4 separate regions of the Homo sapiens genome follow, and regions 1, 2 and 4 are each linked to region 3. The links come from fine-mapping of genetic effects on gene expression. A gene starts in region 3. Each other region holds a variant in brackets. All regions are shown on one strand. Distances are from middle to middle. Region 1 overlaps PRAG1 (PEAK1 related, kinase-activating pseudokinase 1). Region 2 overlaps PRAG1 (PEAK1 related, kinase-activating pseudokinase 1). Region 3 holds the start of PRAG1 (PEAK1 related, kinase-activating pseudokinase 1). Region 4 has its middle 74 kb from the start of PRAG1.

What was found. PIP is the estimated chance that this variant, and not a neighbour inherited with it, causes the effect. A credible set is the group of variants that fine-mapping cannot tell apart.
Region 1: its variant is the best candidate, but not a certain one, in a credible set for the expression of PRAG1 in monocytes (BLUEPRINT, PIP 0.72).
Region 2: its variant is the best candidate, but not a certain one, in a credible set for the expression of PRAG1 in whole blood (TOPMed, PIP 0.69).
Region 4: its variant is the best candidate, but not a certain one, in a credible set for the expression of PRAG1 in whole blood (TOPMed, PIP 0.51).

What each region holds. Positions count from the first base shown.
Region 1 is chr8:8,339,303-8,347,741 of GRCh38, forward strand. PRAG1 (PEAK1 related, kinase-activating pseudokinase 1) reads right to left here. Exons shown (of 6, transcript NM_001080826.3): 4 at 176-333. Among named protein-coding and RNA genes, the nearest start is that of PRAG1, 43 kb to the right of the region's middle. The variant A/G (reference allele first, on the strand shown) is at 4,554.
Region 2 is chr8:8,348,264-8,356,702 of GRCh38, forward strand. The region is part of intron 3 of PRAG1 (PEAK1 related, kinase-activating pseudokinase 1); the gene reads right to left. Among named protein-coding and RNA genes, the nearest start is that of PRAG1, 34 kb to the right of the region's middle. RefSeq lists an enhancer at 4,103-4,232. The variant G/C (reference allele first, on the strand shown) is at 4,489.
Region 3 is chr8:8,383,771-8,388,946 of GRCh38, forward strand. PRAG1 (PEAK1 related, kinase-activating pseudokinase 1) reads right to left here and starts at 2,669. Exons shown (of 6, transcript NM_001080826.3): 1 at 2,551-2,669. RefSeq lists a silencer at 2,372-3,051.
Region 4 is chr8:8,309,667-8,314,666 of GRCh38, forward strand. No RefSeq gene overlaps it. Among named protein-coding and RNA genes, the nearest start is that of PRAG1, 74 kb to the right of the region's middle. The variant C/T (reference allele first, on the strand shown) is at 3,106.

The sequences.
Region 1 (8,439 bases), 43 kb before region 3:
CCATATATTCAGTAGATAATTGACTTCAACAGCTCCCTGGAAGAGTCTACTTCATTGAGAAAGCAGGACCAAGACAGTAGTCCTTGCTCAGCCCTTCCAATCCCGCAAGCAACGCAGGACTGGTCTTGAAGGTCCAGGAGAATCTAAGCCTCTCCGTCAATGTCAAGTTTGTTACCTCCATCGCTGCAGGTCCTAGAGTCTGAGGCCAGGCTGTCCGTGGAGCCGGTGGTGAAGCTGACGTGGACACCCCTGAAGGATGGGCTGAGGCTTTCTGCAGAGCCCTGGCTCACTTTTTCCAAATCAGAGCTGCTCTTGTTCATTTTTAGAAGGTGCCTGGAAAAGGTAGGAACAAACAATACAAATAACTCATTGGATTTCCATTCAGAAACCAGGCTGATGGATCATGAACTTACCATGCTCTTGAAACCTGGCCAATGTCAGCAAGTTTATTAAAAGAAAAAAAAAAGATTTTGGGGAGACAGTAGAGGTTCTCTTCTGAGTTCTTATGTGCATGAATGACAGGAGACTTCCAGAGTGTGGTTAGGAGAAGCGAGTCTATTAAATTTAAACAAGCACCAAAATTCTTACATGGAAGGAATTGCCTTCATATTCTGACCCCATCTGCCAAAACAGTTGTGTCACTTATTATATCCTGTGTAAAATCTCTACAAAGAAAAATAAAGATATTATCATACACACCAATGTATAGAGACATACAGATATTGGGTTGTTTTTGCAAGATCCCAGGACAAATGAATTGCAAACTAGGCCTTTACAAGTGGGATTTCTTTTTTTACCTGGTACTCTTTTGCCAAAGCTTCAAAGGGTCTAGATTGTTTCTTGGAATTAAGGAAAACTTTAAATGTGAACCAGACTTCCAGTGACATGCTTAGATAGAAACAAATTGACATAACCCTTATTCCAGAACAATGGAACCAACCTTTTGCTTTTCTGTGAAATCTTTTGTTGCATCTCTAAATAGCATCACCAACAGATCAAGGACAGAAATACCAACTTCAAGAGAAAAACACTCACATTGGAGAAAACAGTTCTATTATTAGGTTGGGTGTTTAGCTTATTGATTTCTCCTTCCCACTTTCCAAGGGCCACATGAATATTCATTTCTGATCTGACATTCTCACCATGAAGGGAGACAGATCCACACCAGGTCCAGCTCTTCCCCTGCTGGTGGAAACCCACATTTGTCTGAACTGATATTTCCTGATGACATTCCTGTTCCTTCTACGGCAGATCCATATCTCAATATCTGCTATGGGAAATATACAGTACAGTACTGATTTGGCATCAGAACTGCCTTATTTAATGCGCATGACCTTACGGTCAAGAATTTATTGGCTGTTCTTTGTGTTCAACATTGCCAGGCCCTGTTTTAATTTTCATAGTCACGGGAATCCCCTGTGTATCAACAGGAGGGTTTAAAGTTTGTTCGCTACCACAAAAAGTGCTCCTTGAAAACACGTCCCTCTCCCCACTCCCAACCCTTAGAATCGTACTTTTAAACTGTGTTAAATCTGTCAAAAAAAAAAATGTGACAGTGAAGGCAACATTATGACTAATCTTCATCTTTGTATCTCAGTATCGCTGTGGGAACCTTGGAAATATCAATTCCTTAGGAAATGCTATGGCAGTAGCTGATCCTTGCCTAATCTCCTGGCAAAATAAAATCAGACAGTTTCATACAATATTCTTATATCCACATCAGATCTATCACTAATAGTTTTCTCCAAGGGAAGCCAGGATATGAAGTCATGCATAACAACTCCTCAGTCTAGGAGAGAAGCCAGAGCCAGCTCTGTGGCTATCCCCTACTTTGCCCCTTCCAAAGTGGTTTCTAGAGTTTCTTGGTCTTCAGGCCCAGAAAATCACTAAGGGAGAAACTACAGCACCATGGCTACAGAGCTGGCACAGCTTCCCACTCCACAAACTTCATGAAATGTATGTAAATAGACAAAACCAAAAAATACATAAACATGTGTATGTATGAGCATATATATATATTCATATACATATGCACACACACACACATACTTACTTAAAGTAACAGCCAAGATTAAAAGAAAGAACAATTCTCAGGTGCCAGATACAAAGAGGGAACTCCACACACAGGCAGTACAAGGGATCCTTCAATACTAAGCGTATATTTACTACAGATTTCAGTAGACGCACTTTATCAGGCTAAGGATGTTTATTTCTATTTCAAGTTTTCTAAGGTTTTGTATTTCAAAATCATTTTTGGCTATTAGGGTTTATTAAATGCCTTTTCTACATCTATGGGAAAAAAATCATATCATGTTTCTCCTTTACTCTGTGAATGTGATGAGTTATGTTAATAGCTTTTCTTAATTAAGCCATCCTTGCACATGTTGTATGAACTTATTTTACTACACATTGCTGGATTCAGTTTTACTCATATTTAGTTTAAGATTTTTACATTTACATTCAAATAGAGGCTAGCCCATAATTTTTCTTTCTTGTCCTGTCCTTGTCCAATTTGGATATAAAGGTTAAAATAGAATTATAAAATGACGGCCGGATACGGTGGCTCCCTCCTGTAATCCCAGCACTTTGGGAGGTCAAGGCGGGCAGATCACTTGAGGTAGGGAGTTCGAGACCGGCCTGGCCAACAGGCCAACCCCATCTCTACTAATCATACAAAAATTAGCCAGGCATAGTGGCCTGCGCCTGTAATCCCAGCTACTTGGGAGACTGAGGCAGTAGAATCGCTTGAACCAAGGAGGCGGAGGTTGCAGTGAGCCGAGATGGTGCCATTGCACTCCAGCCTGGGTGACAGAGTGAAACTGTGTCTCAAAAAAAAGAAAAGGAATTATAAAATGAATTGAGTAACTTTCACTTTTTCAATTATCTCATGTAATTTTTTTTTTTTTTTTGAGATGGAGTCTTGCTCTGTTGCCCAGGCTGGAGTGCAGTGGCACCATCTTGGCTCATGCAAGCTACGCCTCCCGGGTTCACGCCATTCTCCTGCCTCAGCCTCCCGAGTAGCTGGGACTACAGGAGGCGCCCACCACCACGCCCCGCTAATTTTTTTGTATTTTTAGTAGAGACGGGGTTTCACCGTGTTAGCCAGGATGGTCTCGACCCCCTGACCTCGTGATCTGCCCGCCTCGGCCTCCCAAAGTACTGGGATTACAGGAGTGAGCCACCGCGCCCGGCCTTATCTCAGGTAATTTTTATAAGAGAAACATTATGTGTTCTCTGAAAGATTGCGAAAACTACCCTGTAAAACCATCAAGGACCAGTTGCTGTATAAATGAGATCAGTAAAGATCTGGTTCTGATAAATCTAGGACCAACATTTCCAGGACACAGACCCAAGAAACAGACTGGAGGATTAACAAGTCAATTCATGGTACTTACACCAGCTATTTATGATGTGAAGAAAAAAAGAAAGTAGAGCCATATCTCATACCGTGTAGAAACACGAATTTTCAACAGAAAAGAAACACCCATTAAATTTTAAATTCATCAGAAAAAATAACGAGAAAACTTTATGAACTTGGGGTAGGAAATAATTTTTAAAATAAGGGCTAAAAAATAGCAATATAAAGAAAAAGATAAATCTGACTACTTTAAAATTTAAAACTTCTGCCTCATAACATAAAAGTCACCATTAAAAAGTGAAAAAAAACAAACCTTGGAGTGGCCAACTCACATCTTTGCAACCCGCATTACTAATAAAGTACTGGTAGGCAGAATAAAAAAGAGTGCCTATAAATCTAAGAAACAGACAAATGACCCCATTTTTAAAATGGAAATGAACAGGCAACTCACAAATGAAACAAGAAAGGCCACTCAACACATGAAAAGATTATTAAAATTATGAATGATCAGATTGTAAATAAAACAAGATTTCATTTCATACCCATCAGATCAGACTGACAACGTCAGATTTTGTTAAAGATATAGGGAAATAGGAACTCTCTCACACTGTTTGTGAGACTGTAGATTGGTAAACTCACACACAGGACAACAATGTGATGAATCTTGTAAAGTTAAATACACACATTCCTATAATCCAGTCACTCCATTTTTGGGTATATGTCCTTGAGCAATGTTACTTAAATAACTAGTAATGAATGAATGGCTAAGTCACTTGAGTGGGTCACTAGCAGTTTACTGACCAGCAGTTTATTTTAACAAAACAGAACAGAACAGAAAATATGAAAATACATAGAAAGGATTTGTGAAACTTTGTTTTGTAAAACTTTTGTTTCAGATGTGTGTTTGTTGGGTCATGATATTAATGTTTCTTATTGTGGGTCATGGTTTTTAAAAAAGGTTAAAAATTACTGCTCTAGAATATGAGTCAACAAACTTTTCCTTAAAGGGCCAGATGGTAAATATTTTAGGCTCGTGGACCATAAGGGTTCTGTTGCAACTACAGAACTCTGCTGTTGTAGCTGGAAAGCCACCATAGAAATTAGTGGCATGTTTTCTAATAAAGCTTTATTTACAAAAACAGATGTCTTGCATGTGGGCAATCAGTTACTGGCTGGTCTTGACCAGCCTTGTCCA[A/G]TAGAATTATAATGCAAGCCATATATGTAATTTTAAGTTTTCTGGTAACCACATTTAAAAAATGTAAAATAAATGGGAAAAAATAATTATAGTAATACATTTTATTTAACATAATGTATTCAAAATATTGTCACTTTAAGCAGTAATCAGTATAACCTATATCAATTATTAATGATATATTCCATATGTTTTTTTCATCCTAAGTCCTTAAAATGTGGCATGCATTTTATATTTACTCACATTGCAATTCTGACTAACCACATTTTAAGCTAGTGGCTACCATACTGTGCAGTACAGAGCTGGAGAAACTCTTATAAGTGGAGAAAGGTGTTCACAACGTTACAAATAGCAAATAACCTTCTAAACTGTTGAACGGTGCTTCCACAAAGGAATGAAAACATTGTGGTATAGTCTTTTGGTGGGATACTTTATAGCAGTAGAAAAAAATGAACTGGATTTTAGGGTAGCAATATGAAGAAATATTTTAAAATGCTGAGTATTAAAAGTAATTTACAAAAGGCTCAAGTAAAATGTGATGCCATTTGTATAGAGATTAAAAACATATAAGGATATATACATGTTTTACGGAGCACATAATAAAATGTAAATGATACTCATCAACTTCAAGACAGTGATTGCTCTGGGTAGCAATGGGAGGTTGAAATGGGAATTGGATAGGGAGGGATCTTCCACAGTAGCAGTAACATTTTATTTTTAAAAAATCTAAAGCAAATGGCAAAATGTTAATATTTGAAAAATCTTAGGGAACACCTGCAGGTCAGTTAAATTATTATCTGAACTTCACTGCATGCTTGGAATATTTGATACACTAAAAATGAAAATTTCTAGTGAGAAAGCAAATCACAGGGCCTGAATGAGGCAGGGGGTGGCTGCTCCTGTTGATCTGTTGTTGCGCCTCTGGAAGGCAAACAACACACAAAATAACACAGTGGGATTTCCATCAGACCCCTCAGTGGGAACAGGCAGTCTCAACGAGGGTTGGTTCCACCACAGAGCACCCCTGTGGCTGGAAACAGTTGCATCATAGACCTAACTACTCTTTTAAGACTTGGGAGTTAATTCTTCTGTCTATAGTTACTATAGCAGAAGTCACTGTTGTCAAAACTCTCATCAAGTGAATGCAGACAAAATTAGTCTATCCCTGTGATTACAGGATAAATTATCCGCAGGGTGTGTGTGTGTGTGTGTGTGTGTGTGTGTGTGTGTGTGTGTGTGTTAGGGAGGAAGGGAGCCTCCCAAAGTGGACTTTGGTAAATCTTAGTTTCTAAGCCACAAGTGGAATTTTCATGGCTTTTGGGATCTAACTGCTTCTTCTTTATTGGAAAAGCTTGAGAAATCCAGCTTCCTGCCAGGTCGCTAAAACCCAACAGGTGACCAGGCATCGTGGCCCAAGCCTGTAATCCCAGCACTTTAGGAGGCCGAGGTGGGAGGATCACTTGAGCCTGGAAGTTTGATACCAGCCTAAGCAACATAGTGAGACCCTGTCTCTACAAAAAAAAAAAAAAAGAAAGAAAGAAAGAAAAAGAAAATCAGAAATCAGTAGGCATTTGGAATGCTCAGTTGTAAATGGGGATATAACAGGTCTTCCAAAACACACGTAGGTGACCCTTTTGCTTAATAGCAAAATCTTAAGGCTGGGCACAGTGGCTCACACTTGTAATCCCAGCACTTTGGGAGGCAGAGGCGGGTGGATCACTTGAGGCCAGGAGTTCGAGACCACCCTGGCCAACATGGTGAAACCCCACCTCCACTAAAAACAAACCAAAAAATTAGCCAAGCACGGTGGTGTATGCCTGTAGTCCCAGCTACTCAGGAGACTAAGGCAGGAGAATCGCTCAAACCCGGGAGGCGGAGGTTGCAGTGAGCTGAGATGGCACCACTGCACTCCAGCCTGGGTGACAGAGCGAGACTCTGTCTCAAAAATAAAATAAAATAAAACCTTAGGACTGATGACTCTTTCTTATGAACTGCATTAAAAAGCATCCGCCCTGGAAACCTGTGCAATCTGTACTTTTTGAGAATTGCCACTTTAATTAGGGCATGAGCAAAACCACATCAAATTAAAAAATGAACAGGAAGCTTGCCATCAAAGCACAGACTTACAATCAAGTTGTTTGGGTCTTTACACTGTGTGTAAAATAGACTTCTTAAGAATCCCTGGAAAAGGCTTACTATTGCAATGATGACTTTTCTGAGCCCTAAAGGATTGTTCTATCAGATGTGAGGCCAAAAGACAATGAGTGTACTCAATGCGGTATAACAAGACTACTTAGCCTTTTTTAAAGGCACTTTTCCTTCATTAATAATAATTTGATCTGTCTTTCACAAAACTGGTGCAAACCATCTGCAAAATACTTCCATGGACAAAAACCTCATACTCCAGTCTTTTCTGTCTGTTTGGTGAATAACATTCTTATCATCTACAGTGAGAGTACAGTCTCCACAGATGTCTTCACTCACGTAGTGTGATAAAAGACATCTTGTGCTTAACCTCAAACTTCCTTTCGGCCTCCCACTGTTGATTACATACAGTCCAGGCAGGCAGGGTGAAAGGTACAGGCCAGTGGCACGGTGTCCTCAGAGCCCCAGCCCTGCAGCTGCTGCCCAGTGTTTTGAGAATAGCTTTTCCCTCCATTGTCCTTAGAGAGAGGTCTTGCCAGAGTGGTCTCCATACTATGTTGGTGGAAAGCTGGAAAAAAAGACTCCAGCCGGAAGAGCCATCTGCTAGACTTCCTCATTCGTAGGAACAAGCCTCATCTAAAAATACCCCCGAAGCTTTCAGAATGAGAGCTTTCAGAATGCCCACAATCCTTAACGGATGCGGGGCCCCAGTGTGCAGCAGAGAGTGAATCTCACACTTTCCATGGCTGTTAAAATCCTCATATGACAGCAATATTCAAAGTGTGATTGAGGCCGATTTTCATTCTCACTGCCCCTGACTTTTGTTTGGTTCACATACATTTGGCCGAGAGCTTTCTGCCACTGGAGCGGAATCTTTGAAAACCCACATATGCCAGCATGCAGTTTCAGACTGGCTCTCTAAATCCCAGCAGGCATTCACACTGCTGGCTCTTGGGATTGGTCAAATACACTAGTAAGTTTAGTAATGATCTGGAGAAGATCTAAAGGAAAGTTTTAGAGCATCAAATAAATGTTCTGAAAGCAAGAACAAGTTTTTAAACAGTCTATACATGTTTTTTCAATTACAAAGAAGAAAGGAAAAGACTGGTTTTAAACTCAAACAACCAATAATTGTCTCAAAGACTGAGAACCTCTTACCATTCTAGACTCAGGCCCGTAGTGCTGTCCTCATCAGTGAGGCCTCCCCGGCCTTGTGACTAGCTGGGACAGTGACTTCAGGTTCCCAAGGGGCAGCCCTTGGGTGTGAAGAGCCAGCTTCAGAGGCAGCCGGAATGCTTCTCCAGGCTGCTGTGAATTCACCAGCTCAGAGCTCTCTGTTTCCCCTCAGTTCCTCTCTGACTTTTCTATAAAATGCACTTCCTGCAAAAGCACAGGAAAACAGAGACGGCTCTGCCTCTCTGACCTGCAGCTTTCAATCTCCAATTGTCTTATTTGGCTCCATGATTCAAAGCAATTCAAATATGCTCTAAAATACACTAAGTTTCTCTTCATTTATTCTCTACTATTTAGCCACTTACTAAAGTCAAAATCATTAAGCAATTCGAGTTTTCTTGGTGGATAAGAACACTCTGTTTTTAACTTATCATATGCCTGTGTTACCTGCAGTGGATCTTCCTCCTTGTCTATCCTGAATACCTTTCCCAGGCTTTTCAGCATTAAGCCGACTCTGTGCCAAGCGCTGTTAGGTGTTGGGGATACAATGGTTAACAGAGCTGACAAGATC
Region 2 (8,439 bases), 34 kb before region 3:
CTCAAAATCTTTGTAAAATGGACGATCCTGAAAGAGCCCTACCTGGCACTCCCATAAGGATTCTCTCTAGCTTAGCCACCATGTTGGATTGACTCAGGTCCTCTGTAGTGACAGAAACACACATCTCAAATTTTCTTTGACAATCTCAATTTCAAATATTCCCCATAGTCTATTCATTCCATTGTACACATTCCAACACATTCCTAGGCTTCTGGTTTAGAAAACAAAGTATCATCATTTTGGTTAACATACTGCTATTTCCCCTCCTAAATCCTCTGTTCCAAGCAGGCTCGTCTTTGTCCTCTGATTGTCTCCAAAGCACCAAAGTGCTCCTTCTCTTCTCCTAACTGTGGCTCAGAGGAAATGCTCCTCTCTCCCTTTCAAACCATCTCCATCCTCAAAACCCAGCATCAGTTTCACTTACCTACAAATTCCTCCCAAACTATTTCAGTCTTCTCTGACCCTTCTCATCCTTCTGTAACTGACACTGCACTGAGTCTGAATCACATCACTGAGAATTTGGTTATAATCCTGGTTACATTTTTCTAATTGTTTGATGTGAAATAGGCTTGTAACCGTTCCAAAATTATAAATGGTTTGAGGAGCTGTGTCACAGTTGAGACGTGCTGGAACACAGAGTCATTATTAAACAGTTCTTGATTAAGTTTATCTGCCTCTGTTTTGAGGCCACAGTGGCATCTGGGAGAATAAATGTTTCCTTTAAGAAAGAATTACACTTGCCCAGCAAAACTTGCAAAAGGCAGGAACACAGAGCAACTGATAACCATCAAGAATACCAGATTCAATAGCTGAAACTTTCTCATATCTACTAGGTTGGTGCAAAAGTAATTGTGGTTTTTGCCATTAGTACAAAATACACCTGTTCTAAAATATTCTGAATTTTCACAAATCTTGTAGTTTTTAAATGCTTTTTTATCCAGAAGATAGGAGGAGAAAGGCAGATAACTAAGCTAGGGAGGTTTCTATTATTTATCTATCTATCTATTTATTTATTTATTTATTTATTTATTTTTTGAGACAGAGTCTCGCTCTGTCACCCAGGCTGGAGTGCAGTGGCATCATCTCGCCTCACTGCAAGATCTGCCTCCCGGGTTCACGCCATTCTCCTGTCTCAGCCTCCTGAGTAGCTGGTACTACAGGCGCCCGCCACCTCGCCAGGCTAATTTTTTTTATATTTTTAGTAGAGACGGGGTTTCACTGTGTTAGCCAGGATGGTCTCGATCTCCTGACCTCGTGATCCACCTGCCTCGGCCTCCCAAAGTGCTGGGATTACAGGCCTGAGCCACCGCGCCCGGCCGGTTTCTATTATTTTTATCGTTGGAGCTTTTTGATGAAGATGCTAAGGGAGCTATTTTGCAAATGCCTAAATGCCAGCTGAAAAAACTGATAGGGCCAATCTTCTCTGGGGGCATGTTTTCCACCCGCTGATTTATTAGGATGCATAAATATAGGAAATCAGTTTCATCTTTGGTCAGATGACCTCTGTGGTCCCCATGGTGCAGGCCTGTTAATTTGCATTTTCAGTTAATGCACTAGTGACTCTTCTGGAGCTCTACAAGTTTAAAAGCCCTTTGTTTTAACTTCATATTCAGTAGAAACCATTTAACACAGGATAAACTCATAGTTACATTAAAAGATAGGAAAATACACACACACACACACACACACACACACACATACCACACAAACACACATACATGCACACACACACACATTTCGGTTACTAGTTGGTTTCAGTCAAGGATAAAAATTCTTAAATTGGTCAGATGGAAGTGTACCCTGATTATATACAGATATACTTTAGCATGAGAGATAGAAACATTTTTTTAAAGATGACAATTCAGATTTCAGAAAAGCAAGTCTTTTATTTGTGGCCCCAGCCTACACAGTTGTGGACTTTTCCAAAGAAGTGCTGGGCTGCCTGGTGCAGGAGTGAGGATGGCAGATGTTTGGGGGTATCCAGGTGCGGAGGTTTCAGCTGAGGCTGCAGACAGGGAGATGGAGCTGCTGATGAGCAGGTAAGAGAGTGATGAAGAACTCATAGCTTGGCTCCATCACCCCTGTACACTACACTTTCATCTCTAAAATGATCACCTAAGAACAACGTGTTCCAACTCATGGCCTGGAAAGTCAAGGAGGAAACTCACATCTGTTCACACAAGAGGAGCAGATGGGAAGAAAAGGAGATGAAAAGAGAAAAAGTGGGAACTAACAAGAGAGTAACTGCATTCCACAAAAGGGCCTCTCCTACCAGCTGCCTTGCCTATAGGCAAGCACAGTATCCCAGGGCCCTCAGGAGCTACTGGGAAGAACAATGATGCTAGCAGTTGAATAACTTCCTAGACGGATTTCAGAGTCACCAAGGATGGCCAATGATGTGGTGGTTAAGAGCATGAACACTGGTGCTTCACGGCCTGGGTTCGGGTCCTGACTCAATGCTTACTGGCTGTGTGTTTTGGAAAAGGCCCTTAATCTCTCTCTGTTTCAGCTTCCCATCTATAAAATGTGGATAATGACAATACATACCTCATGCAGTTATTAGAAAGATTCAATGAGTTATTATTTATAAACTGCTCAAAACAGCACCATGTACATAGAAAGTGCTCGTTAAATGGATGGATGGATGGATGGATGGATGGATGGATGGATGGATGGATGGGTGCATGGATGGATGGATGAATAGATCAATGGATGGATAAACAGGCAAACAGAGGACTTCTGCAGTCTCCAGTATACTGAGTGTATTAGTTAGTTCTCTATTGCTATAAAGAAATACCTGGGACTGGGTAATGTATAAAGAAAAGAGGTTTAATTGCCTCATGGTTCCACAGGCTGTGCAGGAAGCAAGATGTTGGCGTATGGTGGGCTTCTGGGTAGGCCTCATGAAATTTAAAAACATGGCAGAAGGCAAATGGGGAGTCAGCACTTCACATGGCAAGAGTAGGAGGAAGAGAGTGAGGGAGGTGCCACACACTCTTTTGAACAACCATATCTCATGAGAACCCTATCATGAGAACAGCACCAAAGGGGGAAATTCGCTCCCATGGTCGAATCACCTCCCACCAGACCCCATCTCCAATATTCGGGATTATAATTCAACATGAGATTTAGGTGGGGACACAGATCCAAACCATATGACTGAGTAATTCTTTTTGCTATCGACAGAAGCAGAAATCTTCAGATAGTCTAGAGGTTCACCCTACTTTGATGTCTCTACTCTTACTACAACATTTAAAAGATCTGCAAGGAAAGATAAATAGAATGATGCTTTGAGGACATGCATTATTCTAAAATCATGAGAAAGAGTTGATTTGTCCATTGACCAGACCTCATTTTGAATTTGTGTGTTCAAGAACTAGATAATTTATAGTATAGCCCCAGATCCAGGAGGTGACATATTCCTCAGCTAATCAGGTTGCTTAGCTCTATCACTTCGCTTTCAGTATATAAAGATCTAGAAAGAGAACAACCTATTTTATTACATCAGCCTGCCTTCCCCTTGCAAAAAAGAATCTCCCATGAGTACCCTTAGCCTCCTAGAACTTTCCTTTCTCCCTTCACACCATCTCCTCATCCCCCAGCACACATCTACCTCTGGTGTTTGGTTAAACAAAAACACTAGTGAGTTGTTACCCACTTGGGAGTCACTGCAGTTCTGGGCTTGATCGAATCCTATTGAAATCCCACCAAGATCACCTGTGCCTGACCAGAATCTTTGTGTTTCTAGACTAATGGTTTTGGTGACCTTGCTTTCAGAATTCTCAGACCCTAATTTTCTTGATTTGGTGAATATTTCAAATTCACTTTGTTGAACCAGCTTCAGTGTATTTTATACTAGACTTCATTTCTACCCTTCTAGCTTGAGAGGTTATTTGGACCAAAGCTCTTAGGATGAGCTACTTCCCCATTCTTCACGCTGGGGCAGCCTTTTGCCCAATAAGGAGCAGACACCATCACAGGTTCTCTCCACACTCCCTGATCAATTCTTCACTCTCTTATCTGCATCTCAACAGGTCCAGCTCTCTGTCTTCAGACTCAGTTGACCTCCCCATTCTGGATATCCCCAAGCATTTTCCATCCTCATTCCTGTACCAGGCAGCCCAGTGCTTCTCCAGGAAAAAGTCCACAACTATGCAGGTTGGGGCCACAGTTAATTCATACTACCTCTCAGGGCTCCCTGGTAATGCTTGTACTTGACCCAAATCAGCTGTTCCAAGCATTCATCACTTTTATTCATCTTCTTAGTCACCATACTCATCTCTCTCAAGTAAGTCCTCTATTTCTCCATGACTCACAGTTTCTCTTCCTGTTAGTTCTTAAGTGCAGAGAAGTGAGATGACCATATGCCTAATTAATGACACATTTTTACATTGGTCTGCATTATTTTAGTTTTTCCCTTCATCTCTACCTCTACTCTAATTTGCCACTTTCCCAATATCTCACTTCTAGGTATACACACTATATTTG[G/C]TATACCTGTATGTTTGTTTTATATCTTGAGTTTTTCTTTGAATAAAGATTTTGTACTTGCTTACAAAAAATCCATTTTAGCTTTAAGGGCATACATAAGCTGAAGGTGAAGGGAAGGAAGAAGATATTCCATGCAAATAATAACCAAAAGAGAGCAGAGATGGCAATACTTATATGAGATAAAATAGACTCCAAGTCAAAAATGGTTACAAGAGACAAAGAAGGGGATCATTTAATAATAAAGGGGGTGATTTATCAAGAGGACACAACAATTGTAAATACATATGTACAAACATTAAAGTATCTAAATATAAAAAGCAAATATTAATGAACATAAAAGAAGAAATAGATAGCAGTATAATTATAGTAGGAGACTTCAACACCTCATTTTCAACAATGTGATAGATCAACCAGACAGAAAATTAATAAATACTGAACTGGAATTAAGCTTTAGACCAAATGGACCTAAAAAGCATATATAGAACTTTCCATATAACAGCAGCATTCTTCTCTAGCACACATGGAACTTTTTCCAGGATAGACCACATGTTGGGCCATAAAACAAGTCTTATAAATTCAGGAAAATTGAAATCATATCTAGTATTGTTTCCAACCACAACAGTGTGAAATTAGAACACAATAATATGAGGAATTTTGTAAAATTAACAGATATGTAATAATGAAACAACATGCTCCCAAAACAACCAGTAGTTAAAGAAAAAAATCACAGAAATTAAAAAATTATCTTGAGAAAAATGACAATAGAAATACAATATATCAAAATGTATAAGATGCAGAAAAAGTAGTTCTAAGAGGAAATTTTATAGCAATAAATGCCTTCATTAAAAAAGAAAGATCCCAAATAAATAGTATAACATTATATACCTCAAAGAAGTAGAAAAAGGACAAAACCACGTGTGGCGCTTATGCCCATAATCCCAGTACTTTGGGAGGCCAAGGCTGAAAGACTGTTTGAGCCTAGGAGTTTGAGTCTGCGGTAAGCTATGATTGATCCACTGCACTCTAGCCTGAGTGACAGAGTGAGGCCCTGTTTCAAAAGAGAAGAAGATGAAGAAAAAGAAGAAGAAGAAGATAAAGAAGTAGTAGTAGTAGTAGTGGTAGTAGTAGAAGAGGAAGAGGAAGACCACCCATTGCACAAGGGAGGAAATAATAAAGATTAGAACAAAAATAAATAAAATAAAGAACAGAAAAGCCACATAAGGAAAAAAAAAGTCAATAGAACTGAGAATTGGTTCTTTGAAAAAAACAAGCAAAATCAACAAACCCCTAGATAGACTAAGAAAATAAGGAAAGAAGACTCAAATAAAATCAGAAATGAAAGTGGGGACATTGTAACAGATGTCTCAGAAATAAAAATGATCATAAGGGACTATTATGAACAATTATATGCCAACAAATTGGATGACAGAGAGAAAATGGATAAATTCCTAGATTCAATATTGAATCAGGAAGAAATAAAAAGCTTGAACAGACCAGTAACAAATAAAGAGATTGAAGAAGTAATTAAAAACGTTCCAACGAAGAAAACCCCAGGACCAGATGGCTTCACAGCTGAATTCTGCCAAACATTCAAAGAACAATTATTACCAATACTTCTTAAATTCTTCCAAAAAAAAAAAATAATAATAAAGCTAGAGGGAATACTTCCAAAAACTTTTTATGAGGCCAGCATCACCTTGATACTGAAGCTTGACAAAGATACCACAAGAAAAGAAAAAGTACAGGCCAATATTGCTGATGAATATTAATTCAATTCTCAATAAAGTATTGCAGACTGAATTCAACAATACATTCAAAAGATTACGTAATGTGACCAGTGGGATTTATCCTTGGCATGCAAGGCTGGTTTGGCATATACAAATAAATCATTGTAATATGTCACATTAACAGAATGAAAGATAGAAACCACATCTAAATTGACATAGAAAAAGCATTTGACAAGGTACAGCATCCTTTCTTGATAAAAACTCTTAACAGCTTGGGTATAAAAGAAAAGTTCCTCAACATAATAAAGGCCATTTATGAAAAACTCACAGCTAATATCATAATCAATGGGGAACAACTAAATGTTTTTCCATTAAGATCCAGTAGTAGGCAAATAAATCCACTTCTGCCACTTCATATTCATCATTGTACTGGAGGTACTAGCAAGGGCAATCAGACAAGAAAAAGAAATAAAAGGCATCCAAACAAAAAAAGGAAGAAGTAAAATTATCCGTATTTACAGATGACATAATCTTGTATGTGGAAAATCCCAAGAATTCCACCAAAAAAAGAACTAAAATGAATTCGGTAAAGTTGCAGGATAGAAGATCTACACACAAAAACCAGTAGCATTTCCACATACAAAAAAACAATCCAGGTGAAAAAACAAAAATCAAGAAAACAATCCAACTTACAATGGCATAAAAAATTAGGAATAAATTTAAACAATGAGGTGAAAGATATGTATACTGAAAACTATAAAACATTAAATGCAAGAAATTGAAGAGGACATAATTAAATGCAAATATATACCATGTTCATGGATCAGAAGAATTAATATTGTTGAAATGTCCACACCACCAAAAGTGATATACAGATTTAATGCAATCTCTATCAAAATTCCAAAGGCATTGTTCACAGAAATAGAAAAAACAATCCTAAAATTCATATGGAATGACAAAAAAAACCCTTCAAATAGTCAAAGCAATATTGAGAAAGAAAAAAGGAAAGATGAATTTGGAGCCTTCATACGTCCCGATTTTAAATTATATTACAAAGCTATAGTAATCAGAAAAGAATATGGTAGTGGCATAAAACCAGAAGCATAGAGCAATAAAACAGAATACAGAGCTCAGAAATTGATCCAGACATACATGGTCAACTAGTTTTTGACAAGAGCATCAAAAGGGCACCATAGAAAAGATAGTCTCTTTAATAAATGGTGCTGGGAAAACTGTATCTCCACATGAAACAGAATGAAACTGAACCCTTATCTTATATCATACACAAACATAAACTCAAAATGGATAGAAGGCCTAAATGTAGGACCTGAAGTCATAAAACTATGAGAAAAGAACATAGGAAAATCTATTTGATATTGGCCTTGGAAATGATTTTTTGGATATCGCACCAAAAGCTCAGACTACAAAAGCAAAAATAAATAAATGGAACTACATCAAACAGAAAACCTTCTGCACAGCAAAGGAAACAATCAACAAAATGAAAAGGCAACTTAGGAACTGGGAAAAAATGTTTGCAAACCACGTGTCTGATAAGACGTTAATGTCCAAAACTTATGAAGAATTCTTACAACTCAATAGCAGAGCAATAAGTAACCATACTAAAATATGGGCAAAGGATCTGAACAGACATTTATCTGAAGACATAAAACTCACCAACAGATAAATGAAAAGGTGTTCAACATCACTAATCAGGGAAATGCAAATTTAAACCACTGTGAGATATCACCTAGCACTCATTAAGATGGCTGTTATCAATATGAAAGACAACAAATGTGGGTGAGGGTGTGAAGAAAAGAGAACACTAGTGCATTTTTGGTGGAAATGTAAATCATTATGAAAACTATAGAGGTTTTTGTTTTGTTTTGAGACAGGGTCTCACTCTGTCACCTAGGCTGGAGTGCAGTGGTGCAATCATGGCTCACCACAGCCTTGACCTCTTGGGTTCAAGTGATCCTCCTGCCTCAGCCTCCCAAGTAGCTGTTACTACAGGCATGTGCCACTGTGCCCAGCTAATTTTTTTGTATTTTTTGTAGAGATGAGGTTTCATTATGTTTCCCAGACTGGGCTCGAACTCCTGGGTTCAATAAATTTGCCCATCTCAGCCTTCCAAAGTGCTGGGATTTCAGGCTTGAACCACCACGACTGGCCTAGAGGTTCTCAGTGGCATTTTTTGCAGAAATAAAAGATACATCCTAAAATTCAT
Region 3 (5,176 bases):
AGTTCTCCAGAAGAGGTCACTGGGCTTCAACAAGCGGAGGAAATAGCCAGGTTTTGTCTTTCTCTTATAATCTCAGGCCACAGAGAACTGTAGCCTTGCTGCTAAGTTTTGGGAGGGGGAAAAAGCAGAGGAAGTATTCCAGCCTTCAGGAATAGGCAGTAGGTCCCTTCCTGGGACGCTGATGGGTGAAGACTGTCTACACCTTCTAGGCCACAGAAAGGACACTGTCCAGCCCACCTCCACTGCAGGCAGATGCTCCCATGCCTGCTCCGCGGGATGGAGGAAGACAGTTTGGAAACCAGCTCTGTGTGGGCTCTGCAAGTTCCCACAGCTCCTCCTGACACTGGGCTATCTGAGGAGGTGGGTGCCCAACCACTTCCTCAGGGTCTATCACAGATTCACAAAGCAGCAGTTCTGCTTGGCGACTTATTGCCTCCTCAACAGGCAAGTAAGAACACAAACTTGTTTTTGCGGAAGGGGTGACATTGGTATCAGAGGCCCTACTTTCTAAGATTCCCCAACCTTTGCACAGCCCTGTGCAAAGGGAGTGTGGAAGGATCTGGATTGCTAGCGTGGGGGAAGTTTCCTTGAGAATGTCTCATCAGTTTACGAGCACTCTTTGCTCCCATTCTCAGCTCAGAAATCCTTGGATGTTTAGAGAGGCAACTTTCATCACACGACTGCCAGGGACGGATGGACGCAAAGATTTTTAAAGGGAAGTCATTGAATAAGAAAAGAACAAATGAAGCCCTGGGCTTCCCACTGTCATTGACTCACTGCATCCTGTTAAAACTGGTTTCTCAGTCGCAGCAAACAGAATTTACCACCGCATGCAGCCAAAAAAAAAAAAAAAAAAAAAAAACCTCTTTTCCCGTTGCACTTCTGTGCCTGGAATTATCTCCTATTTGTTTTAAGTAAAAGATGGTGAGAAACACAAGTGGCACCCACAAAGCCTTGCCTCGCCTTGCCTGGTGCAGCAGTGCCAGCTCTCCACAGCATGGGGAAGGCACTTCGCAGCCCACATTCCTTACTTCTGAGGGGAGGCAGCCCCCAGAATTATGCAAATCCTCCCCATTTCAGTAGGAGGCTGCAGTGTCAGATTAGAAAAAAGAGCTCAGCATTCTTTCTGATCCAAGTCATGAAAAAAATGTCTTTGCCTCTGCAAACTTCTGCACTAGATTTGTGGCTACAGTTTGCAAGACTGAAGCTGTCAGATACACTCCCACCCCATTTCAAAAAAGAATCTGAAGAATCAAGGTGGCCAGATCTTTAAGATTAAATATTTTGGCCCAAAATACCCCCTCAGACTTACATCAGAAGTTGCTTATGCCTTATTCTGAAGTGACAGAATTGCAGAAAACATTCACCTAAAATTTTTTTCTGTATGTTACAGTTAAATTAATGCAACGCCAGTAAAAGGAAAGAAATATGTGTGGAAAGTGTCTGAACTTCAGCACACTCCACTGGCCAGGGCTGACCAGGCAGAAAGGAGAAAGTGACAACTTTACCACCCACTAGCCCCCTGCCTCCCTACTCACGCAGAGGGTAAATTACGATATTCACCCAACTTTTCCTTTTCTTTTTTCTTCCTCCAGTGCTGGAGGAAAGAAAATCTCAGAGGGAGGAATGTGGTTTTGCACCCACTACAGTCGAAACCAACCAGACCTCAGGAGAGAAAAATAACTGCGGAATTCCCTAGGGCTTTCTGTCAAATTTTCTTCTCAGAAAGGGAAGGGGAGAGGAGTTGTTAAGAATAGTTCAGGCCAGTGATCAGGAAAGCCTTCTGAGCCTGACTCCGCACTGAATGCATCGCCAAAACTCCTCGCCCCTAGACCATTGGGCTTTGCTATCGGCTCTGCAAAACCATGTGCAGGGAGAGCTTACCTGAGAGAAACGCACACACCGTGAGCTGGCGCTCTCCGCTGCGAATGCCCGGCCGCCTCCATGCCCAGCAGAGGATTCTATGTTCTAAGTGTGTGTGTCCCCGGATACCAGCAAAGGTTAATAACGTGCTCACAGCATGCGTTTCAGAGGGCTCAGCCAGGGCTCGGGGAAAAGGGCATCATCTCGTTGCCTCTGGAGCCCCGCTGCTGCATACCCTGCACCCCCAAACCATCCCCCCGGGTCCTGGTCCCAGCAGCCAGGCGGCCTTCCGTCTCTCCCCCTTGACAATACTCTAGCGGTGGAAAGCAGTCCTCAAAGCGCTTCAGCCTCCGGCCGCAGACAGAGCAGCAAGACCAGAGAAACCATCCTAACAGTCGGTCCTCCCTCCTGGAACTCGTAGGAAAGTTTCCCCGTTTTAAAGAGCGCGATTCTCGAATGAATCAAAAACACCCTCCAGCTCCTCGGTCCTCCCGGCCGGGCGCCTCCCTGCACCTCGGGCACCACCCGGGGCTCACGCGGCCCCGGCACTGCCCACTTCCCGAGCGGTCGCCTGTCACCCCGGGGGTAGCCCGCTCGGCGATCGCAGCGCCCCTCCAAAGCTCCCCTCTGCGACCACGCTCGCCAGACAAAAAGAGGCCGAATTTGGAGAGCGCGTCGCGGGCTCACCTCTGGGCTGCGCTCCCCCGGCCCCTCCGTCGGTCTCCGAGCCGCCAGCCGCCCGGCCGGAGCATTGTTCGCAGAAGGTCTGCGCGCGGTGCGTGCCCGGCCGCGGGCGGGTGGCTTCTGCCTGGGCCCGGCGGCCGGGTGGCAGCTGTGAGCGCGGCTCCGCCCCCTCCGCCTCCGGTGACGCCGCCCGCCCCAGCTCACGCCGCACCTCCGCAGTCCCTGCCGCCGCCCGGCCCCGCCTGGCCCGCGCGCCCCGCCGCCCGGCTTGCGCCTGCCGCTCCCACCCGGCGGTCTCCTACCCCCAGGGCCCCGACTCCTCCAAAGTCTCCAGGCCCCGGGACTCCCTCTCTTGCCCACCCTCCCGCCCCGGACCGGCAGGCTCCGCCCCCAGCCCCAGACTTGGCGCGGGCTGACCCCCGAGCCCAGCACCCGTTTGCACCCCCTCCTCGGTGGGGACCCTGCACAGCTCTGGAGGGGCGAGCTCTGGCGTTGCAATCCTCCTTTTGCCATCATGCGTGTATAGGTGCCCGGCATCACTTCATCCAGCCGGCCCTGCGGGACCCTGGGAAGAGAGGGAGAAGGAAGGGGAAACGAGGAAGTGTGGGGTCGGGAGTGGAATACAGGTCAGGGTCCGAGGCGGGCTCTGAAAGCCACGTGAGCACAGCGAGCCTCAGCTCTCCCTACCTCTGGGAAGAGGGTGGCGCCGGAGGGAGCAGGGCTGGAAGTCCCGGTGGCGGATTCCAGGTTCCGCTCAGTCCCTGGACTGCAGGATTCTGGCAAATTGCTTAACCTCTTTGAACTTTAGTTTTCTGGATGTAGAATGCAAGCGTTGCACTGCAGGGACCTGGCCTTCTACCATGCTGGGACATCCAAGTCTTCCGCAGGCCAGTAATACACCTGTGTTTACACCGTTTCCAGTGAGTCATTCACTGAGATAGAACGAGTTCGAGATAGTCCTCGGGCTAAAAAAATCTTTTCACTGGGAGTATAATAGCTTAAGACCCAGTCAGTCCTGTAGCTTGACCTGGGTGTTTACTCGGGGAGCCAGGGCTATGGTCACCTCCCAGGGCCATGCCGGGTGGGAAGAATTCAGTGAAATGGAATAGGAAGAGGACCCCCCTCCCCCACAAAACAATACCTGCGGCTTCTCTCGCCCTCTATCCCCTCCCCAGGAAGGCAGTTTATTTTGACTCCAGTGAAGGTCCTCTGCCAGTCAGCCTGCGAGCCCCCACCCACTGAGAGGAGGAAGATGGGCCCCCACCCCCACCCCCAGATCCCTGGCTCTCCTCTTTGCTGCTGTGGGTGTGGACAGAGAGGGAAGATGTGTATTTGAGGTTTGGCTTCTGTGTGAGGAAAGGGAAAAAAGGATCCAGGGAATTCTTCCTCATGTTCCAGTGACACCCATGCCTCCTAAGAGGACAGAATCTGGGGGAAGCTGTAGAGGGATGGGAGTGCAATGGACATTCCTTAAGGACCTACCCAGCGCTAAGCAATCCTATGAGGAGAGCATCATTATCCCCATTCTACAGATAAGAAAACTGAGGCTCGGGGGCCTCACAATTTGCTGGGGTTCCTCAGCTGAAAAGTGGTAGTACTAAGATTGGAACCAAAGGCTGTCTGGCTTCGCTGGTAGGCAAGTCTACTCTGCCACTCTGCCCTTGCCAAGTGCAGGTAGTCCAGCCCTATTTTTCTCTCTCCCCTAAGTGGAGAGAAATCATTTGAACAAATACTGGCCGTGCGCGGTGGCTCACACCTGTAATCCCAGCATTTTGGGAGGCCGAGGCTGGCAGATCACCTGAGGCCAGGAGTTCAAGAACAGCCTGGGCAATGTGGTATAACCTCATCTCTACTAAAAATACAAAAATTAGTCGAGTGTGGTGGTGGGCGCCTGTAATCCCGGCTACTCAGGAGGCTGAGGCAGGAGACTCACATGAGCCAGGGAGGTGGAGGTTGCAGTGAGCTGAGATCGCACCACTACACTCCAGCTTGGGTATCAGAGCAAGACCCTGTCTCAAAAAAAAAAAAAAAAAAAAAAGGAAGGGAAACTTTGGTTACACTTCATGAGCATCCAACAGAGCTGAAAGATCCAGACCCTACCAAGACTCAAGAGGGGAAGATGTTGATTAAACAGGTAGGTACAAAGTGGTCTGCAATGGAGAAATACAAAAGTGACTTCAGAAAGTGTGCAATTCATTTACACTGGGAGAGGGCAAACTAAGATGTTTGAGAAGTTCCTGGTTCTCAGGATTCAGGCTAAATGTTTCACTTCTTTCCTCTGTAAGAGAGACATTGACCTCACAGAATAAAGGCTGTGCTGAACACATAAAAGAAGCACTTACTTTTGCACTTTATTTTCTTCTCTTTACCTAACTTATTCTTTTTTTTTTTTTTCCTGGGATGGAGTTTCATCTTTCAATCAGGCTGGAGTGAAGTGGCAAGATCTTGTCTCACTGCAGCCTCCACTCCCCGGGTTCAAGCCATTCTCCTGCCTCAGCCTCCTGAGTAGCTGGGATTGCAGGCGGCCACCACCATGCCCTGCTAATTTTTCTATTTTTAGTAGAGACAGCATTTCACCATGTTGGGCCAGGCTGGTCTTGAACTCCTGACCTCAAGTTATCTGCCTGCC
Region 4 (5,000 bases), 74 kb before region 3:
AGACACTCTTATTCTGTCATTCATAGTTTTCCAACATTGTCATCAGACACCAAACTAAAATCTTCTGTTCAAGCAACCCAGGGAGTCTTTGAATGACAGGTCAGCGGCATTAATGAATTCCTTCCTCAGTGCTCAGCCCACAGGGATCTGTGAATGAAAATGAGACAGAGGACCCGGATGTAATGCCACTTTCCGTTTGCTAAACTGAGTAGTGTCCATTTACAGAAACACAGATACCCCGCAGAGCCCAGCTGTGGCCATTATCAGGGCTTGTATTATGCTCTTAACATCTCTGCAGGAATATTCACTGTCTGTCTCCTGCATTATTTCCTTTCCTTCCCAATAACTTTAGAGTTACCACAAGGGAAACACTCCAGACCTCACCAGGCCTGTCCAACTGAAGGTCATGATTCCAACCCTCCATCAAACTGCTACCAGAGGCCTGTGCCCCAGTGAAAAGCCGTTTTATGAGAGCACCTGTGACAGGTGTTGTTTAGAAATGGTTATCTTGGGCTGGATGTGGTGGCTCACACCTCCAATCCCAGCACTTTGGGTGATGGAGGTGGGAGGATGGCTTGAAACCAGGAGTTCTGGACCAGCCTGGGCAACTTAGTGAGACCCCCATGTCTACAAAAAATTAGTCTGGTATGGTGGCATGAACATGCAGCCCCAGCTACTTGGAAGGCTGAAGTCGGAGGATCACTTGAGCCCAGGAAGTCAAGGCTGCAGTGAGCTATGATCATACCACTGCACTCCATCTGGGCAATGGAGCAAGGCTCTATCTCAGAAAAAAAAAAATAGAAGTGAATATCCTACCAAAAGAATGAATGACTGCCATAGCCATTTAACATTGCCCTTGGTTTTCTTCATTTTGACTCTTTCTCCAATGAACTGTTGCCTTTTCAGAGATGAAACAAAGGGGGTAGTTGGGTAATAGGCCAGGGCCCAGCAGCTGGTTCCAGTGAGGCCTGTCTGCAGGATGAACGCTGTGATCAAATGTGTGACTCATAGTTGGGAGGTGTCTGCCAACCCCGGCTGCAGGGCACAGTCGGCACTGACCGGGAAGGCAGGCTGATCTGCACCCTTGTCTGCTTCCTGTGCTGGGAGCGCAGCCCCCACCCCACCTCATTCCCCCAACCCTATCTCCACATGGAATTGTTCCACTGGCTGTCACCCAGGGAGCCCCTTCTTTCTACCCATGTTCAGTTGGGTACTTGAAACAGCACATGACTCATGTTGTACTCAGCCAAGACTAACAGCATCAGGCTTCTATTGTTCAAGAGCTGACTCCAAGTTCCATGAACTATTTCAATGAGTGGAGTCCTTGTTGCTTACATTGCAGCTCTCTAAAGTCATGGAAAGAAATGACCACACTGGAGGCACAGAAAAGCCAAGGCACAGAGTAGCACAACCTTGCTCTTCCTTAAACACTATCTCTGAAAGATCATCCTGAAGCATTTTCCTTGGAGAACCGGCCATAGGCACCAGGTTGGGTTTGCCACAAGGGACCAATGCAGACCTTGTCAAAGAAGTGTTGAGTTGCAAGTGCAAAGACTAGCAGAGTCACTCCAGGGACTAGTAAGGGCCTGAGGGTGAATTTTATCATTAACTCAGGGCTCTGCTGCCAATGTTAACTGCATTTTAGAGCAAGCCTCAGGACTTCCATCTGGGAAGAAAAAGAGTCTGTATCTCCCAATGGAAATTAAATGAGTTGTCCTAAGACCAAAAACAAGGAGCAATACCAATAAGAGATCATTAAATTTTTGATGAGTTAATGCTCTCCAAGCAGTGCAAATGACGTTTTAATGCCTGGGGAAAAGGTGATGAAACCTGTCAATTCCCTAACTCAGGGGAGAAATCAAGTCACTTCTCTTTAAGAAAGTTCCGGCTGGGCACGGTGGCTCACACCTGTAATCCCAGCACTTTGGGAGGCTGAGGCGGGCAGATCACCCGAGGTTGGGAGCTCGAGACCAGCCTGACCAACATGGAGAAACCCCATCTCTACTAAAAATACAAAATAAGCCGGGTGTGGTGGCACATGCCTGTAATCCCAGCTACTCGGGAGGCTGAGGCAGGATAATTGCTTGAACCCCTGAGGCTGAGGTAGGACAATTGCTTGAACCCCAGAGAAGGGGGTTGCAGTGAGCAGAGATTGCACCATTGCACTCCAGCCTGGGCAAGAAGAGCAAAACTCTGTGTCAAAAAAATAAAAAAAAAAAAAAAAAAGAAAAGAAAAGAAAGAAAGTTCTTGTTGACATACTGCTAAGTGAGGAAAGCAAAGCGCTCTGGCATCTCAGGCATGGTAACTTCCGTGTAAGAAAGAAAGATATACTTGTATCTGCTCATTTGTGAACAAACACAGGAAGGATCAAGCAGAAACTGGTGACTTTGGTGACCACAGCGGGTGGGTGCTCACAGGGGAAAGGAGGGGAAAATGGCATGGAGGAGAAAGCATGGAGGATTGATACCTGCTCTGAGTGCTCTGAGCATCCTTTTTTTTCTTTTTTTTTAGACAGCCTTTCTCTGTCTCTCTGTTGCCCAAGCTGGAGTACAGTAGCACCATCCTAGCTCACTGCAGCTTTGATCGTTCGGGATCCAGGGATCCTCTCACCTCACTGGAGGTGAGTAGCTAGGACTACAGGTGTGTGCCACCATGCCTGGCTAATTTTTTTGTTTTTTATTTTTTTGTAGAGACAGAGTCTCCCAAAATTGCCCAGGGCTGGTCTCCAACGTCAAGCAATTCTTGGCCTCCCAAAGTGTTGGGATTATAGCTTTGGCCTTCCAAAATGCTGTTACAGGCGTGAGCCACTGTGCCCAGCCCTGAGTACACCTGTTGGATAGTTTTATCTTTGAGTGCCATGTTAGGGCTTGCCTACTCAAATAAATAAAACCAACAAAGCTGAGGGGTAGGAAAAAGAAAATCCGCTTCTCTTTTAGGAAAACCAGAACTTGCTTATGTCATTGTGGTGGTGGGAATGGCCAGTAAATAAAGGGTTTAAATAAGAGGCTCAGTTGTTAAAGTCTTTCTGACTTTTTACAGAATCTGCTGTAAGTTCTGAAATTGAACTCTACACAATCTAGAAAAGAGGAAATGGTTACAGCTTC[C/T]TCATTCCTGGAAATCTTTGAGAAAATAATGGACATACAAATGTCTGTGTAATCCTAGTAAAGGAGTGAAGGCCTGATTACCTTTTCAGGATTGTGGAAAGTCACCGGGGCTGGATCCATGCATATGATATTAAATTGGTGCAAAGGCTATTGCTGTTTTTGCATTAAAAGTAATTAAAAAGTAATGGCAAAGGCCACAATAACTTTTGCACCAACCGAATAGAGCAGGTAGTTTGTCTTCGAATCTTGTGTTCTCAATTCCCGCCTTGTCTTCTCTCCTTAGACCTCCACATTCAATTCCCTCAACCTGTCTCCATGTCTGCTTTGCCCTAATAAGGCAGTAAAGCAGAAGTCTGCAGAGTAACCTTTAAGTTTGTTACAGTGCACAAACATCTTCACAATCTCAGCCCATCTGGTGTCTAGGGCAGTATTTTTTTAGGAAATAGCTGTAATCACCTCTGGCATAGGAGCTGGAAATATTTGAGTCTAACATTTAGAATATGTGATCAATGTCTATGTTCAAACTCCCCAGGGATAATGCAATACAAAGTCAGCCTGTTGACACGCAGAAAAATCTCGAGTGAACTTGACCTTCCTTCCCCAGTTCCATAAGCTTGGCATGGATGTAGTCAACTTCTGGGAGAAAAGATCCAGATCAGACAAGACTGAGTATCCTGGATCTGGTAAGGATCCACATTGGTCACAGATGTTCTGGCCCAACCCCAGAGTCCCCTAAACCAACAATATCACTTTTGAGTGAATTTGGACTCTTTTTCTGGAACCCTAGAGTCCATCGGGTTACCTCCTGACCACTTTCCCGGGGTGCAGTTCCTCCTCCTAGGATATCTTTTACAGGGAGGTTGCCCCATTGCCTGCATTAATTAGCACTGGAAAAAAGAAAGAAAGGGTAATTGTCAAGACAATCATCCCATGGTACTTGTTCCAACCATTTTATTCTTGCTTTTTTTTTTTTTTTCAACAATGACATCAGCTGGGTTAAACTTTGATTTCTAATAAATAAATTCCATTCACATCACCATCTCTTAAAAATGGCAAGTTGGTTTTATGTTACAAATCTACTATTTTTAGTGGGATTTGGTAAGCTAATCTTTAGATCTCCAAAGGTTTTCAGATATTCAACAGAGCAGAAAAGGGCTGCTTCATTTGTTGACTGTATTTTAAGCGCAAATTTAGAACTCACTAAAGTAACATGTGTCTTCTTTTTAGAAAATCTTTATAATTATTTTATGTACACGCGTACATCTCAAAAGAGTTTTTTCAGCTCTAAGCTCTTGGAAACCATGAAGTGTTATATAAAGTGGTAACTACAGCTCCCCAAAACCAGTCTTTTCAGATCTGAGCCATATGTTATGATAAATAAATAATCCCTAAAGCGCTTATCTGGCTTCTGGCAAGGATATAACTATTTAGATATGAGGCTTTATAACGCCTACATTAAAAAAATTAGAAGAAAAACGATTCCACATCTTGGCATGAAAATGAGAATGGCTTACAAACAACAAAAATTACGTATGTGGAAAACATAATGGGGGTGACTTGACTCAGTGGGAGAGAAGAAAAACTGGAGATTTAAATACCAGTAGTTGGGTTTAGAGCCAAGAAAAATGGGAGATGAACTCACTGATAACAGGAGTATTAAATTGCCAGATCCTGCAACTGTCCTCGTACAAAAGTCCCTGATTATTTCTGAACCTCAGTCCTGCAGAACAAACTATCGTTTCTGGGCATAATGGATATCATGCTAGAGTCTTCTGTGAGACAAAGCCATGCAGCCTAGGTGTATTTTGAAGTAACAAAAAACCAGTTATATTGAACCTCTGAATTTAGTGCGAATGAAGTTGTTTGCTAAACCTAATATTTACAGCCACATGACT